Regions from separate parts of the Homo sapiens genome. Here regions 1 and 3 are each linked to region 2. Evidence: fine-mapped expression QTL. A gene starts in region 2. Each other region holds a variant in brackets. All regions are shown on one strand. Distances are between the middles of the regions. Region 1 overlaps INSR (insulin receptor). Region 2 holds the start of INSR (insulin receptor). Region 3 overlaps INSR (insulin receptor).

What was found. PIP is the estimated chance that this variant, and not a neighbour inherited with it, causes the effect.
Region 1: its variant is the best candidate, but not a certain one, in a credible set for the expression of INSR in fibroblasts (GTEx, PIP 0.51).
Region 3: its variant is the best candidate, but not a certain one, in a credible set for the expression of INSR in whole blood (INTERVAL, PIP 0.72).

Annotation. Positions count from the first base shown.
Region 1 is chr19:7,122,965-7,125,721 of GRCh38, reverse strand. INSR (insulin receptor) reads left to right here. Exons shown (of 22, transcript NM_000208.4): 17 at 195-439; 18 at 2,733-2,757. Among named protein-coding and RNA genes, the nearest start is that of ZNF557, 55 kb to the right of the region's middle. The variant G/C (reference allele first, on the strand shown) is at 1,638.
Region 2 is chr19:7,293,277-7,296,033 of GRCh38, reverse strand. It overlaps INSR (insulin receptor), which reads left to right and starts at 1,620. Exons shown (of 22, transcript NM_000208.4): 1 at 1,620-2,242. The coding sequence starts at 2,143. RefSeq lists silencers at 1,039-1,218, 1,359-1,748, 1,769-2,048, 2,189-2,328, 2,379-2,438 and an enhancer at 2,420-2,757.
Region 3 is chr19:7,271,743-7,274,499 of GRCh38, reverse strand. The region is part of intron 1 of INSR (insulin receptor); the gene reads left to right. Among named protein-coding and RNA genes, the nearest start is that of INSR, 21 kb to the left of the region's middle. The variant A/G (reference allele first, on the strand shown) is at 1,357.

The DNA.
Region 1 (2,757 bases), 170 kb after region 2:
CTGCCATGCCCTCTCCATGGGTGCAGATGCCTGTCCTGTTCTCGGCCATATGCCCAGTGCCCGGCATGGGTCCTGGATCACAGAACTCATTTCATGAGTGTTTTCGAGGGGGTTTGGGTGAGGGCTTGGGTGGAAGGTGGCTGCAGACCCCCAAGGGATCCTCCAAGGATGCTGTGTAGATAAGTAAGAAGTAGTGTTTCCATGCTCTGTGTACGTGCCGGACGAGTGGGAGGTGTCTCGAGAGAAGATCACCCTCCTTCGAGAGCTGGGGCAGGGCTCCTTCGGCATGGTGTATGAGGGCAATGCCAGGGACATCATCAAGGGTGAGGCAGAGACCCGCGTGGCGGTGAAGACGGTCAACGAGTCAGCCAGTCTCCGAGAGCGGATTGAGTTCCTCAATGAGGCCTCGGTCATGAAGGGCTTCACCTGCCATCACGTGGTGAGTCCAGTGGGGGTGGGACATGGGCTGGCTTTCCTGACCCTTCCCTTTCTCTGCCTCCTCCTCCTGCACAGAGCGACAGAGGACACAGGGTGTAACCTCCTACCCACCCCTCACTCCACTAAGCTTCCCATCCTAGAGGTGTGAGGAGGGATCATTCCCTTCTCAAATCCCATCCTCTCCCACTTCGCCTGGAACCAGACTCTATCACTGTCTCATCACTTTCTGGAATGTTTCATTGCTTTCCAGAATCTTTCATCACTTTCTGGAATCTTCCATCATTTTCTGGAATCTTCCACCACTTTCCGGAATCTTCCATCATTTTCCACAATCTTCCATTGCTTTTTAGACTCTTCCATTTCTTGCTTTTTCCTGGCACCTTTGTAACCCAGGACCACATAGAGGTCCACCTGATACCACCTGCCCTCGTTCCTACTCTCCTTTGAAGGCAGCACCAACTCTTCCTGCCTTTCTGCTCCTTTGTTCCTCTTTGAGTCCTATGTGCTTTCATCCTTGCCACACATATTTATGGGGCATTTAAAGCCCTGCTCTTGTCCCTGTGATACAGTGGATACCTGCCCCTGTAGAGCTTCCAAAACAGCAGGCGGAGACAGACTCCAAAACCTTTATTTTTATTTTATTTCATATATATATATATATATATATATATATATATATATATATATATATATATTTTTTTTTTTTTTTTTTTTTTTTTTTTTTTTTTTTTTTTTTTTTTTTCCTGAAACGGAGTCTCGCTTTGTTGTGCAGGCTGGAGTGCAGTGGCACAATCTCAGCTCACTGCAAGCTCCACCTCCTGGATTCACACTATTCTCCTGCCTCAGCCTCCCGAGTAGCTGGGACTACAGGCGCCTGCTACCACGCCTGGCTGATTGTTTTTTTTTTTTTTTTTTGAGATGGAGTCTCACTCTGTCACCCAGGCTGGAGTGCAGTGGCATGATCTCAGCTCACTGCAACCTCTGCCTGCTGGATTCAAGCAATTATCCTGCCTCAGCCTCCCGAGTAGCTGGGACTGCAGGTGCCTGCCACCACGCCCAGCTAATGCTTTTTATACTTTTTTTTATTAGAGACGGGGTTTCACCATGCTGGCCAGGCTGGTCTTGAACTCCTGACCTCGTGATCCACCCGCCTTGGCCTCCCAAAGTGCTGGGATTACAGGCGTGAGCCACCACGCCCA[G/C]TGCCTGGCTAATTTTTTTGTATTTTCAGTAGAGACGGGGTTTCACTGTGTTAGCCAGGATGGTCTCGATCTCCTGACCTCATGATCCGCCTGCCTTGGCCTCCCAAAGTGCTGGGATTACAGGCGTGAGCCACCACGCCCAGCCTATTTTTATATATTTTTAAGACAGAGTCTCTCTCTGTCGCCCAGAGTGGAGTGCAGTGGCACAATCTCGGCTCACTGCAACCTCTGCCTCCCAGGTTCAAGCAATTCTCCTGCCGCGGCCTCCTGAGTAGCTGGGATAACAGGAGCCCACCACCACACCCAGCTAATTTTTGTATTTTTAGTAGAGATGGGGTTTCGCCATGTTGGCCAGGCTGGTCTCGAACTCCTGAATTCAGGTGATCCACCGGCCTCAGCCTCCCAAAGTGCTGGGATTACAGGCATAAGCCACCACCCCCAGCTGACTCCAAACCCTTTATACATTAGGAGCAAATGCTATGGAAACATGAAGAAAGGGAGGAAAGGAGGGTTGGACAGGGGTGTATTTGAGCAAAGACTTAGAGGACATGAGGAGCTGGGCCCTGTGGATGTGGCAGGGAACAGAGAGCCAGGCAGAGGGAATGATTAAAATACAAAGGCCTGGCTGGGTGCAGTGGCTATAATCCCAGCACTTTGGGAGGCTGAGGCAGGCGGATCACCAGAGGTCAGGAGTTCAAGACCAGCCTGACCAACATGGAGAAATCCTGTCTCTACTAAAAATACAAAAATTAGCCGGGTGTGGAGGCGGGCACCTGTAACCCCAGCTACTCGGGAGACTGAGGCAGGAGAATTGCTTGAACCCGGGAGGCAAAGGTTGCAGTGAGCCGAGATCACGCCACTGCACTCTAGCCTGGGTAACAGCAAGATTCCGTCTCGAAAATTAAAAAAAAAAAAATACAAAGGCCTATCTGTCTGCTGTCCGGGCAGGTATGTCTGCTCTCCTAGACCAGGGCTGAGCACGCTGCATCCAGGCCACAGGGTGCTGTGTGTGACATAGACACCAGGGAGGGAGGAGAACCCTGGTGAGTCGAATCACGGACCCTCCTCCAAGAACCCTGGTTGCTTGCTCTGCAGGTGCGCCTCCTGGGAGTGGTGTCCA
Region 2 (2,757 bases):
AAAGAAAGAAAAGAAAAAAAAAAAACAAACAATTGCAGGTAGTGGGGTAAACATGCTATGAAAATGAGAGAGAAGGGGCCAGGCGCAGTGGCTCAGGCCTGTAATCCCAGCACTTTGGGAGGCCAAGGCCGGTGGATCACCTGAGGTCAGGAGTTTGAGACCGGCCAGGCCAACATGGTGAAATCCTGTCTCTACTAAAAATACAGAAAATTAGCTGGGTGTGCTGGCGCATGCCTGTAATCCAAGTTACTTGGGAGGTTGAGGCAGGAGAATCACTTGAACCCAGGCAGGTGATGTTGCAGTGAACTGAGATCTGGCCATTGCACTCCAGCCTGGGCAACAGAGAAAAACTCCATCTAAAAAAAAAAAAAAAAAAAAAAAAAAAAAAAAAAAAAAAAAAACAGAGAGAGAGAGAGAGAGAAGGAAACGGAACTGGGGGGAGGATTTGCAAAAATATGGTTAGGGATGGCACTTCAGAGATGAAGCCATCCTGGAGTGTTACGGGCAAGGGAAATGCTGGGGCAAAGGCCCAGAGGCAGGAATAGGTTTGGCCTGTTGCATGAACAGTGGGTCCAGCTCCTAGCAAACTGTTTATTGAATGAAAGAAGAATGAATGCCTTGGGTCTAGGGTTGTGCTGGGCGCTTTCTTAAGTTTTCTTTCCCGGGTACCTCCCCAGAACTGGCATGCAGGTATTATTAAACCCATTACACAAGTGAAACTGGCCCAGAGACAGAAAAGTCCCTGGTCCAAGACCACACAGGAGTGAGGGGTGGAGGAACCCTCCTCCCATTGAGTTCTGGCTTTCCTATACTGAAAGCCCCTTCCTCTCCTGCAGTAAGGTAGGTGGAACCGCTGTCCCGCCTTGTTGGTGAATGTCGTTGCTAGACTTCAGACACATACAGGCTGGTCTGCTGAAAATCAGAGATGTCCACCTGCGCCCTATTCGAGGTCTCCGGCGTCTTCTTTGGCGTCGTCTTTGCCCTTTCAGAAGCGTCTGCACATTTTTCCAGGTGTCATTTCTCCAACTTGAACACAGGGAGCGCACTGGGCACGCGGGCACGTGGCTGTCCCCAGGGGCCTGGCTTGGGTCTCGCCCCTGGGCCGGGGCGCACTCGCGGGCGGGACATCTGGGGGCGCCCACGCGCTCTGGGACGAGTGTCGCTGGCCAGGCCCGGACTGAGGAAAGGCGAGTGAGACACTACTCGCCTGGGGTGCAAAATTTAAGGGAGTGAAAAAAAAAAAAAAAGAAAGAAACCAAAACCACCTCGAGTCACCAAAATAAACATTTTAATGCAGTATTTTTTAAAAAATCAACAGGAATCCTCCAAAGCCCACTATGAACAAAATAGCAAAATGGTAGAGAAAGGATCTGTGCCGCTGCGTCGGGCCTGTGGGGCGCCTCCGGGGGTCTGAAACTGGAGGAGACTCGGGGCTGTAGGGCGCGCGGATCTGGGGCGCGCCCTCGGTCCCGGCGCGCCCAGGGCCTCCCGCGCGGGGCCCGGCACAGGGAGGCGGGGAGGCGGGCGGGGCGGGGCGGGGCCGGGCGGCACCTCCCTCCCCTGCAAGCTTTCCCTCCCTCTCCTGGGCCTCTCCCGGGCGCAGAGTCCCTTCCTAGGCCAGATCCGCGCCGCCTTTTCCCGCGGCCCGCACGGGGCCCAGCTGACGGGCCGCGTTGTTTACGGGCCCGAGCAGCCCTCTCTCCCGCCGCCCGCCCGCCACCCGCCAGCCCAGGTGCCCGCCCGCCAGTCAGCTAGTCCGTCGGTCCGCGCGTCCCTCTGTCCCGGAGCCCGCAGATCGCGACCCAGAGCGCGCGGGGCCGAGAGCCGAGAGACAGTCCCGGGCGCAGCGCGGAGCTCCGGGCCCCGAGATCCTGGGACGGGGCCCGGGCCGCAGCGGCCGGGGGGTCGGGGCCACCACCGCAAGGGCCTCCGCTCAGTATTTGTAGCTGGCGAAGCCGCGCGCGCCCTTCCCGGGGCTGCCTCTGGGCCCTCCCCGGCAGGGGGGCTGCGGCCCGCGGGTCGCGGGCGTGGAAGAGAAGGACGCGCGGCCCCCAGCGCCTCTTGGGTGGCCGCCTCGGAGCATGACCCCCGCGGGCCAGCGCCGCGCGCTCTGATCCGAGGAGACCCCGCGCTCCCGCAGCCATGGCCACCGGGGGCCGGCGGGGGGCGGCGGCCGCGCCGCTGCTGGTGGCGGTGGCCGCGCTGCTACTGGGCGCCGCGGGCCACCTGTACCCCGGAGAGGGTGAGTCTGGGGGCGCGGGCGTGGGCGGGGAGCGCCGCGATGGGGAGAGGACCCCACCCAAGCCAAAATCGAGCCCCCGCTTGTGGACTGAGAACCCTCCCCAGGGGCGGGGGGCGGTGGCCAGGACGGTAGCTCCTGCATCGCGTAGGGGGAGCGGGAAGCCTCTGACCTTGGCCTTTGCCCGCCCGGGCTCGCGCCTCCGCGCCCTGCGTGCCCGACCTGAGCCCGAGGAACCTTGCCCCGGTGCCCGCCCCGCCGCGGGCTCCTCTCTGGAGCGCGCCTCCGACCCGTGCCCCGGCCCCTCCGAGCCCAAGTCGCTCCGGAGACACGACACGCGTCATCTTTGGGTCGCGGCCGGGAAGTGGGGTCACTGGGTCTGGACAGCCCCGAACAGCCAAGTCCCCCGAGCGCATATGGTGTAGGTAGAGCCAAGCGCCCTGAGTGCCTCACCGGTGGGTGACGCTGCCTGGGGTCAGGGACTGCAGAGCCCCCCTCTACCCAACTACCTTGGATCT
Region 3 (2,757 bases), 22 kb after region 2:
AAGAAAAATGAGCCTCCGTTTCGAGATGGGCTGCCAGGGTAAAGCACACACCACATCTCGTAGGCGTCATGGGAAAAAAATCCTGCAGACCAGGGATCCCCAACCCTTAGGCCACAGACCAGTAGCAGTCCATGTCCTGTTAGGAGCTGGGCTGCACAGTAGAGGTGAGCAGAGGGCAGGTGAGCATTGCCGCCTGAGCTCCGCCTCGTGTCAGAACAATGGCAGCATTAGATTCTGATAGGAGCTCGAATCCTGTCGTGAACTGTGCATACAAGGGATCTAGGTTGCCTGCTCCTTATGAGAATCTAACTGATGCCTGAGGATCTGAGGTGGAACAGTTTCATTCTAAAACCATCACCACCCATCCCGTGTTCGTGGAAAAATTGTCTTCTACCATTGGTCCCTGGTGCCAAAAAGGTTGGGGACCACTGCTGTGGACTATCTCATTAATCATTTTTTTTTTAGGATTGATTATATGTGGGAATTATTTATTTATTTATTTATTTTGAGATGGAGTCTTGCTTTGTTACTTAGGCTGGAGTGCGACGGGATGATCTCAGTTCACTGCAACTTCCATCTCCTGGGTTCAAGCGATTCTCCTGCCTCAGCCTCCTGAGTAGCTGGGATTACAGGTGTGAGCCATGGTACCTGGCCCATTCGGCATATTTTAGTACGGAGATGGTGGTCAGGCACGGTGGCTCACGCCTGTAATCCCAGCACTTTGGGAGGCCGAGGTGGGCGGATCACCTGAGGTCAGAGTTCGAGACCAGCCTGGCCAACATGATGAAATCCCATCTCTACTAAAAATACAAAATTAGCCAGGTGTGGTGGCACACGCCTGTAATCCCAGCTACTCGGGAGGCTGAGGCAGGAGAATTGCTTGAACCCCAGAAGTGGAGTTTGCAGCAAGCCAAGATCATGCCACTGCACTCCAGCCTGGGCAACAGAGTAAGACTCAAGTCTCAATTAAAGAAAAAAAAAAAAAGAAAAAAGAAAATATTAGCTGTCACTTAGCACCCTCTTCCTCATTGCCTTTTTCTACCTGTACAAAGAGTGGCCATTAACCAGGTACCCATTATGAAGAACTTGAAGCATCCTTCACGCCCACTCAGAGATGTTAAAAGCCAGCAGAAGTCCTCGTGTCTATTTCTGCCTTCATTTCTAACATCCTCTGGGTATTTTCTGTCCCAGTGGTAAACTGCTCTATTGTCTTTCACTAATAGGGACACATACGGCTTTAATGAATTAAGAGTTAGATTCATAGGATATTTAAAAAGAAAAGCAATTCTTGATTGTTCCCTACAATTATAGCTGTTTAATCTTTACTCATAACAACTTTAGTGAGACAGAATTCAC[A/G]TGACATACAATTCACCCATTTTAAGTGTGCAGTTAGGTGGTTTTGAGGACATTTACAGTTGTGCAACTGTGACCACAGTCAGTTTTAGAATATTTGCATCATCTTCAAAGAAACCCTGTACCCTCTAGCTACTACTTTCCATCCCCCATTTCCCTAGCTCTTGGCAGCCACGAATCTATTTTCTGTCTCTATGGATTTGCCTCTTTCGGATTTTTTTGTATGAATGGAGTCAGACAACATGTGGCCTTCTCTGTTTGACTTCTTTTATGGAGAAGGTTCATACCTGTAATCCCAGCACTTTGGGAGGCCAAGACTGGAGGATTGCTTGAGTTCAGGAGTTTGAGAGCATCCTGGGCAACATAGAGAGACCACTATCTCTACAAAACAAATTTAAATTAGCTGGGCATGGTGGTGCATGTCTGTGGTTCCAGCTATACTGGAGGCATAATTTTGTTTTGTTTTTGTTTGTTTGTTTGTTTTTGTTTTTGTTTCGTGGGGTTTTTTTGGTTTTGTTTTTTGTTTTTTGAGATGGAGTTTTGCTCTGTCACCCAGGCTGGAGTGCAAAGGCACGATCTCAGCTCACTGCAACGTCCGCCTCCTAGGTTCAAGCCATTCTCCTGCCTCAGCCTCCGTAGCAGCTGGGATTACAGGCATGCGCCACCCCGCCCAGCTAATTTTTGTATTTTTAGTAGAGACAGGTTTTCACCACGTTGGCCAAGCTGGTCTCCAACTCCCGACCTCAGGTGATCCACCTGCCTCAGCCTCCCAAAGCGCTGGGATTAAAGGAGTGAGCCACTGTGGCTGGCCTTTTATTTACATTTATTTATTTATTTATTTAGAGACGGAGTCTCACTCTTTCATCAGGCTGGAGTGCAGTGGTGCAATCTTGGCTCACTGAAACCTCCAACTCTCTGGTTCAAGTGACTCTTCTGCCTTAGCTTCCCAAGTAGCTGGGACTACAGGCACTCGCCACCATGCCCAGCTAATTTTTTTTGTATGTTTAGTAGAGATGGGGTTTCACCATGTTGGCCAGGATGGTCTCAATCTCCTGACCTCGTGATCCGCCCACCTCGGCCTCCCGCAGTGCTGGGATTACAGGCGTGAGCCACTGCGGCCAGCCTGTATTTACTTTTGAGACAAGATATTGCTCTGTTGCCCAGGCTGGAGTGCAGGGGTACAAACACAGATCACTGCAGTCCTGACCTCCTAGGCTCAAGCGATCCTCCTGCCTCAGTCTCCCGTGTAGCTGGGACCAGAGACACACACCAGCATTCCTAGCTAATGTTTTAAATTTTTATAGAGATGGAGACTCGCTATGTTGCCCAGGTTGGTCTTGAACTCTTGGGTTTAAGCAATCCTTCCGTCTCTACCTCCCAAAGTGCTGGGATTACAGGCGTGAG